Homo sapiens: one gene and its partner. The protein of the gene in region 2 interacts with the protein of the main gene of each other region in a pairwise test. Each region holds a gene or a part of one and is shown on either strand. Other genes may lie near its edges. The genes, in order: A1CF and RIMBP3C.

The links.
Region 1: the proteins of RIMBP3C (region 2) and A1CF interact in a two-hybrid assay, tested with the Homo sapiens proteins (one large-scale study listed by BioGRID).

The regions. Positions count from the first base shown.
Region 1 is NC_000010.11:50,809,003-50,812,813, forward strand, and holds part of A1CF (APOBEC1 complementation factor), read right to left. Parts: intron 2,175-3,811; coding exon 2,038-2,174; intron 1,041-2,037; coding exon 892-1,040; intron 1-891. UniProt on the Homo sapiens protein: Essential component of the apolipoprotein B mRNA editing enzyme complex which is responsible for the postranscriptional editing of a CAA codon for Gln to a UAA codon for stop in APOB mRNA.
Region 2 is NC_000022.11:21,548,574-21,552,962, forward strand, and holds the start of RIMBP3C (RIMS-binding protein 3C), read right to left. Parts: upstream 2,889-4,389; 5' UTR 2,404-2,888; coding exon 1-2,403. Other genes in the region: UBE2L3 (ubiquitin-conjugating enzyme E2 L3), read left to right, coding at 877-1,077.

The DNA of each region.
Region 1 (3,811 bases), on a different chromosome or scaffold from region 2:
ATCTTTTACTAAAAAAAAAAAGGATAAAAAATTTTCAGCTGAGAAAAAATTTCCTAAACAACTTTCTTGCCTGGTCCCCTTCAATCTCTAAAGGATTCAGTTTTAATTATTACCATTTGTTGTGGGTACATAACAAATGGGGACAAATCTTTTAAAATGTGACCTCTGAAGGCATTGTTGATCCACGGATAGGCTTTGCTTTAAGCAATCAGCATATGCCCCAGACCAAAATTATAGAACAAATAAATTGAGTTGAGTCCTGATTATTCACATATTGAAAGGATCTCTGTCTGTCTCTCACTCTCACAAAATTTTTGACTTTAAAAAATCTTTTTTGAAATCAAATTAATAAAAGTAGATTGAAGACTGGAGAGGGAGAAAAGATTGCTGAAAAGCTAATTGCCAGTGGCCAAATTACTTAATCTTTCTGTATATGGGCTCTTCATTTGTATACCAGACTTTCTGATGGAACCTAACTCTTGGTGGTATCATGAGTATTACTAAGATATTATAACGCTTCCTGACCATTTAAGTGAGTGCCTAGCACACAGTAAGATCTCCAATAAACATCATATATCTATAGGTAGTTTCAAACTCTCGTACTAAAAGTAAAAACCAAAACAAACCAGACTCAGAGAGACTGACTCATTCAAGATCACACAGCAGTTTAAAGCTGAGCCGAGACCAGAACCCACTCTGCTGCCCAGCTTGATTTTCTTGCCTCGTGTTTTAATGAGTCACTCATTTGGGAAACTCTTTTTGGTCCCAAGGTTGTGCAAGTCAGATTGCTGTAAGTAGGGTACACAAACATTTCTGTGATTCAATGGTACCAAAAAAGGGTTTCCCAAATACTCTCTGCAGGGCGCCATTTCTGGCACAATTTTCCCATACCTGGGAAAGCAGTAGCAGCAGCAGCAGCAGTAGCCATGGTGCCATCGCCTCCATCAGTGGGGATGCCCAGGGTCTGCAGGGTGTATTCGGCTGCATACGTCTTTGCTTCATCCACAAAGGCACTCAGCTTTGGAGGTGTGAAAGGGTGGCTGGAAAGCAAGTCAGTCAGGGTAGGCATTTTTAAACTGGTACAACTGAGTCAGGTGAAAACTTAAGGCACTATCAGCTTTGTAAGATGACTGGATGGTGGTATTTTGAGTGGGTGTTTTTCATTCTGTTTGCTATTAAAGCTTCTAAATATAGGTTGCATGTAGAAATATTTACAAATTGATCTAGAACATCAGTGGTTGATGACATTCCTGGGACATACAAGTAATTCACTACATGGCTTTTCTAAAGCACAAGTGAAACAAATTGTTCCTAAAATATATAGAAATGCAGGCTCAAGGTAAAATTCAGGAGGTGATATCCACTAACAGAGAGGTCATATCTTTGGTCCAAAATTAAATGATGGGCCATTGTCTTATTATGTATAAAATGGTAGTTTCATATGCTTCAACCTAAACACTGCACAGATGAAAGAATGGGCTATAGCTTTGTTTGTTTGAAATGGAGTCTCACTCTATTGCCCAGGTTGGAGTGCAGTGGTACAATCTAAGCAAACTCCACCTCTCAGGTTCAAGTGATTCTCCTGCCTCAGCCTGCTGAGTAACTATGACTACAGGCGCCTGCTGAGTAACTATGACTACAGGCGCCTGCCTGTACCGGCTACTACATCCGGCTAATTTTTGTATTTTTAGTAGAGACGGGGTTTCACCATGTTGGCCAGGTTGGTCTCAAACTCCCGACCTCAAGTGATCCAGCCAAGAATGGGCTATAGTTTTTATTTCTATTACATTTTACACTACTGACTGTTATCCACTGGCTGGTGATACTACACAACCTTCATTGTGTATATGAAATTTGGGGGCCTTTATATGCTGGTTTCATGGCTGGCACATCCCAACTACACATCTCAATATTTGCATTGAATGACAAATGAGTAGGTAGTAGACCTCAGTATCTTGTTTAGATGGTGACTAAATGCATTTAATTTATAAGTGTATCCTGCTCTAAAATGGTAAGGAATTTGGAGAAGTTACGCACATTGCAGGATTCTGGCTGGCTAGAGCAGGAATAGTTATTTTGTACAAGAATAGCTGTCTTTGGTCTTGTCCAATAGCAGAGTGCAGCTGGTACACTGGCTGTCCCCAGTTATTTTTCTGACAAATCTCTTCTAATATCTACAAGAATAAAAAAAGTTATTTCCCCCTCAAATGACACATTCACATTATTTCCCAAGTTTTCAGGTTTTTAAACTCTAATTTTCAGAGTTCAAGCTAGTATCTGAAGACATAAAATGCCACATGATTTAATGACTCATAAAATTTAAGATGAACTCAATTTGAACTCCATTTAAAATGTTAGGTCTATTAGTTCATAAAATCACTTTCACACCATTTACTGTAATATGTTTTTAGTTTAGTCTATTAGCTGTAACTTTTTACCAAAAGCTTAATTTTATGATTTGTTTGGAATATTTGTTTTTGTAAAAATTGTTGCTCCAACACTGTGTGTATAGATTTGTATAGATTTACTCATTATTACTCTCAATCTCTGTGTTTATAATGGTTTAGAGATGATAGCCTAAGAATATATTTTTATTTCGTGACATTTGTCATAGGGTTTTAATCTCACAATTTCATAAAAATAGAATTAAAAAGTTTAATGCTTGGTATTTATCGAGTGTTCCTAGATGGGTGTTGACAGTTGCAATGTTTTTATTTGTTTGGTAAGACACTATTTCTGCCTTTTTTGTTTGTTTGTTTGTTTTTTTGCTTAATGACAATATGCTTTTTAGCATCCTCCTGCATGTTTTTTCTTCTGTAATTACTCCAAACTGAATATTTTCTAAAGATTCATAGTTTCTTTATTCTGAAGCCATTTTTGGTTGTCCAGAGGTCCTGATGCTCTCGTTAGTCAGCAGATTCAGTAGACTGTGGAAAGCAGGGCATAAGCCTGAGAAAATAACTCTGTAAGACAGAACAATGTCTCAGGATGTGTCTCTGAGGTTTCTTACCTCATTTATGCTAACTAACCCAGCTGCAATAGCATGATATTTTCCAGTTTATTAATTTGTAGATTGTTACTGTTTTTTCTATTGATATTTTCTTTTTAATACTCTTGTTGTGTAGGATCTCTTGTAATCCTCAGAGCATTCTCTACAGTTCTTGGGCAATAATAAAGGAGCTTTTGCTGGTAGATATTATGCCTGCTTGTTTATGCCAGGTGAGCAAACCTGGGCGGAAGGAACACCAGCTCTCACTGCTGACTTTGCAGGAAAGGGCTTGTCTCTCTGCTTCTGGCTGGAAGTTCACAACTCTACTTTGGGATTGTTTAGGCCCCATCTGTGTTGGTTGGTGGTGGCATGGTCTTCATTTCTAAGCCATAGTTGTAGAAGGTCAGACACAAATTAAAGAACTTTTATTAATTGATAGAGATTGTTACTCACATACTAATAAAAGACATGATGAATTTCTAACTTGAGTTTAATGTAAAATGAAGAGATCTCTTTTCATACTATTGCAGCTCTCGGAACTATTATTATACAGAATTTGCGACTATTATTTTTTATTTTCTTAAAATATTTCTAAGTATTCCAGTACTTTAATCAGGTTTTTTGTTTTGGGTTTTAACCTAAGAGAAACTGGATGAGTGGCTTTTATATTTTCTGAACAAACTTCATCATATCACTTCCAGATTTCATTATATGTTTACGTGTCAGTTTTTTCCCACTGGATTGCCATCTAATTTTTCATGATAAGGATTTTGTTATATTCACTTCTACATCTCCAGCACCTAGCGCACTACATGGTGCATA
Region 2 (4,389 bases):
CAGAGTAGGGGAGGACGGCACGGTGGCCCACATCGACCCCTCAGAGGAGGAGTTTGACTGGGAGCTGGTTTTCTTGGACAGAGGTTGGCTGGCAGGGACTGTCTCTGAAACTTGGGGGACACTGGCTGACTCCCCAAGGGCAACTGGGCTCTCCTCGAGGGAGGCTTCCCTTTTCTCCTGTATGTCTCTGTTGGGCTGTGACACTGCGTAGTCTTCAGGCCGTGCGTGGAACTTGGGCCTTCTGCTACCTTTAACTTGGGACTCCGGCATTTGACTGGTCTCCCAGGGCTGTTCAGGAGGGTGACCAGGCCGACACTGGAGCGCCTGTATCTCCTTCCAGGAAGGATGGAGGTCACACAGGGCCTTCTGCGGGTCGCGTTGCAGCTGCTGCTGCCTGTCCTGCCCGCGCGCCGCCTGCTGCAGCAGCTGTTCGGCGATCAAGCCGGAGGCATCGCGCTCTTGACACGCGCGGCCCAGGTGGCCGCGCACTTCGCTATTCTCAGCCTCCACCTTCCGCACCCAGTCGGTCTTGGCCTGCAGCCGCCCATTCTCCTCCGCCAGCCAGGCGTTTTTGAGCAGCGCCGCCTGCAGCTGTGTCTCGGCCTCCTCGCCACGTCGCCGCGCCGGGGCCGCCTGCGTGCCCAGCTCCTGGCACTCGCGCCGCCGCTGGTCCAGCTCGCGCTCCAGCGCCAGCATCTGCCGTCGCACCTCCTCGCAGGTTGCGCTCTGGCCGCCCGCCTCGGGCCAAGCGCCACCGTTGCCCTGCTGAAGCATCAACTGCCTCTGCAGGCGCAGCACTTCCCGCTGGGACTCGCGCTGCAGGCGGTCTAAGTCTCTGACGTTGAGCCACTGGGTGCAGGGGCCGCCCCTTCCAGTATGCAGGTCGCTGCAGGGACCCGAGGCGACACGCGCCTGCAGGAGGTGGCACTCCTGCCGCAGCTCTTCGATCTGCTTGTCCTTGGCCAGCGGCGCGCTCGCCTGCTCCGACAGGTCCCGAGCGCGCTGGCGGGCAAAGACTTGGCACAGCTCCAGGCCGGCGCAACTCTCGCCGGGTATAGGCGCGCTCACGGCCCGGAGGTTGGTCTCCTGCAGCTCGCGGGCGCGGTCAGCTAGGCGCCGCGCGAGCCCGGTCAGCTCCGCGCGCTTTACCTTGAGCCGCTTCACCTTCTCGTCTGCCTGGTAGGGGCAGCCTGCACGCCGCAGCTGCTTGTTCTCCTCTTGCAGGGTATAACAGCGGCGCGCCAGCACCCACAACGCCTTGGCCAGCAGCCAGTTCAGCTTTATCAGCTCGTGGTGGCCCAGGCCCGGGGGTGAGGGAGTCAGGACTTCGCAGGGCTGGCTCTCAGAGCCTTCTCCTCCCCGCGGGTTGCTGAGTTTCCTGTGGGCTGACGGTGGTGGTGGCGGCGGGAGTGGCGATGGTGGCGGCGAGAGCCTCCGGGAGCCAGGGGTGGAGGTGTCTGGTGAGGAGGGCCGCTCCTCGGATTTGGAGGCCTTGGGGAGGCTCCGGGTGCTGTCAAGCGAGCGGGAACACGCAGGTGCGAAGCAATCAAGGGAGCTGGCGTGCGTGGAGAGCAGGCCGTCTGGGGAGCTGGAGCACGCAGAGGACACCAGGCCTAGCGAGCGGGAGCGCACACCGACTTCAGCACTCAGGCTGTCTAGAGATCCGAGTTGGCAGGCGGGTTTGGGGGCGTGGCAAGAGCCGCTGGAGGTCTGGGGCAGCGGTTCTTCCAAGGAATGCACAGCTTGGGGGTCCGGTGATCCCGACAAAGCCGGGTGCCCGCGGAAGTGCGCCAGGATGTACTTGAGGAAGAGCTGGCGCTCCACCTCCAGCGCCGCCTGCAGATAGCGGATGCGCGCCGCCTGCTCGCCGTCAGTCTGCCAGCGAAGCTGCGCCAACACTTCCTGCAGGCGACAGCGGCACTGCGCCGCGGAAACCTCGGACGCCCCCGGGCGGCTACAGTGGCCGCGGTTCACCAGCTCCTCGGCCAGCTGGCGCTGCAGCTCCCGGGCTTGGCGCACCACGCCATCGCGCTCCCGGTGCAGCAGCTGCTGCAGCTGCCGCTGCTCGGCCTCCTTCCAGCGCAGCAGCTGCCGGATCTCGGCCTCGCGTTCCCGCTGCATCTCCTCTTGCAGCTGCCGCAACTCCCGGCTGCGCTGTGCCTCCCACTTGGAGCGCAGACGGTCAGCCAGCTGCCGCCGCTCCCGCTCGGCCTCCTCACGCAGCTGGCGCTCCCGGGCAGCGAAGCGCCGCCGTTCCGCCCGCCAGCCTGCCCGCTCCGCCTCCAGCTCCGCCCGTAGCTTCTCCAGCTCCCGCCTCTGGTTCTCCAGCACTGCCGCCGCCGGGCTGGAGCAGCCCGGCTTCTTGGGCGACGCGCCCAAGGGGCTGGGCGAGTCCTTGGCCATTGCGGCCGCGGCCCGGCTGGTCTCCAGACTTCGCCTGGCAGGCCTCAGCTCGCCAACGGCCGCCGCCGACCGCCCGGCGCGCCCCTTCCGGCGCCCCCTGGGGGTCTCCGCGTGCCCCTTCCGCCTCTTGGCATGTTCCCCCGCCTCCTGCCGCGGATGTCTGGCCCAGGCGCCTCTCCACCTGGCAAGGCCAGGGCTGGACTCCCACACCCCTGCTCAAACTGGCCCATGTCCCTTCCAGGATGCACGGGGGCTTTTCCGGTCCCTACACTTTTCCTGCTTCTAGCACCAAGTCCCTTGTGACCCTCCCCAGGCACCCTCCCAGGCACTGTGCAGTCCCAAGCAGGCCGCGGTGCCCCGAGGGAAGTCTGGGCTGCTGCTCCTGTACTTGGAGAAAGGGGCAGGGTGTGTGTGTTAAGGCCACCCATGGGGTGTGGGCATACCTGGTCGTGGGTTCAGGTGGTGTATTTGGGTCAGGTGGCTGGAAAATGCAGCAGGATAGGCCTCAACTTGGCTAGACCTGGACTCCCCAGGACCCTTCAGCCCCCTAACAGCCCTGATCACCCAACTGGTCATCCACCTTTTGAGGAAAGGATGTGCCTGATACACATTTGTGTTACTGCGCAGAGTCGGCTCAGAGGAGGTGTAAGCGAAAAGACCCTCCCCAGCAAGGTGGCATAGGGACCCAGGGCCAGATAGGCATGGGGGCACTGCCCAAACTGGCCATCTGGCCTGTCTACCTCCCACATCCAGGTACCACCTGGTGACAAACACTGGAGCCCCAGTGTCTGGGCTACTCATTGGCATCTTAGGTAGAGGCCTCAGGATGGGCCAGGAGTGAGGGTGAGGCTTCAGCAGAAATGTTGGAGGCATCCTGAGCTGCAGAAGAAACACACACACACACACACACACAGCTGCAGAAGAAACATACACACACACACATACTGAGCTGAAGGAATACACACATACACTGAGCTGCAGAAGAAACATACATACACACACTGAACTGAAGAAATACACACACACACACACACACACACACACACACACACACACACACACACTGCCTCTCTGACTGGTGGCCACCTGTGTGGCTTGGGAGCTAAGAAGCCCTGCTTCAGTCTGGCTCCTCTTTGCCCTTCCTGTCTGCTCCTGGTGCCAAGTGGCTTTTTGGAGACATGGATGGACACCTGATACCTGGCAGTCTGCATCGAGACATTGATTTTGTTTTTTGAGATGGGGCCTCACTCTGTCGCCAGGCTGGAGTGCAGTGGCGCAATCTTGGCTCATTGCAACCTCTACCTTCCACGTTCAAGAGATTCTCCTGCCTCAGCCTCCCAAGTAGCTGGGATTACAGGCTTGAGCCACCATGCCCAGCTAATTTTTTGTACTTTTTAGTAGAGACAGGGTTTCAGTATGTTGGCCAGGATGGTCTTGAACTTCTGACCTCAAGTGATCCACCCGCCTCGGCCTCTTAAAGTGCTGCGATTACAGGCATGAGCCACTGTGCCCGACAAGACCTTGATATTGAAGTCACATCAGAGGCCCCTTTGCTTCTTGGTCTGTCGTGTCTCCCTGTCCCCAGGAAGCACCTGGGACCTCTCACAACTGCTGTGTTCACTCAGCTTATGGCCCTCCTTTACAACACTCAAGTTTTTCAAATCAGTTTCCCCGGAACCCACAGAACATGCCTTTAGGCAGTGTCAAGTAACAAGAACATCGGGAATTATGGCTCCAGATGTTCTTTTTTTTTTTTTTTTTTTTTGAGATGGAGTCTCGCTCTGTCGCCCAGGCTGGAATGCAGTGGCGCAATCTCTGCTCACTGCAAGCTCCGCCTCCTGAGTTCACGCCATTCTCCTGCCTCAGCCTCTCAAGTAGCTGGGACTACAGGTGCCCGCCACCACGCCTGGCTAATTTTTTTTGTATTTTCAGTAGAGATGGGGTTTCACCATGTTAACCAGGATGGTCTTGATCTCCTGACCCTGT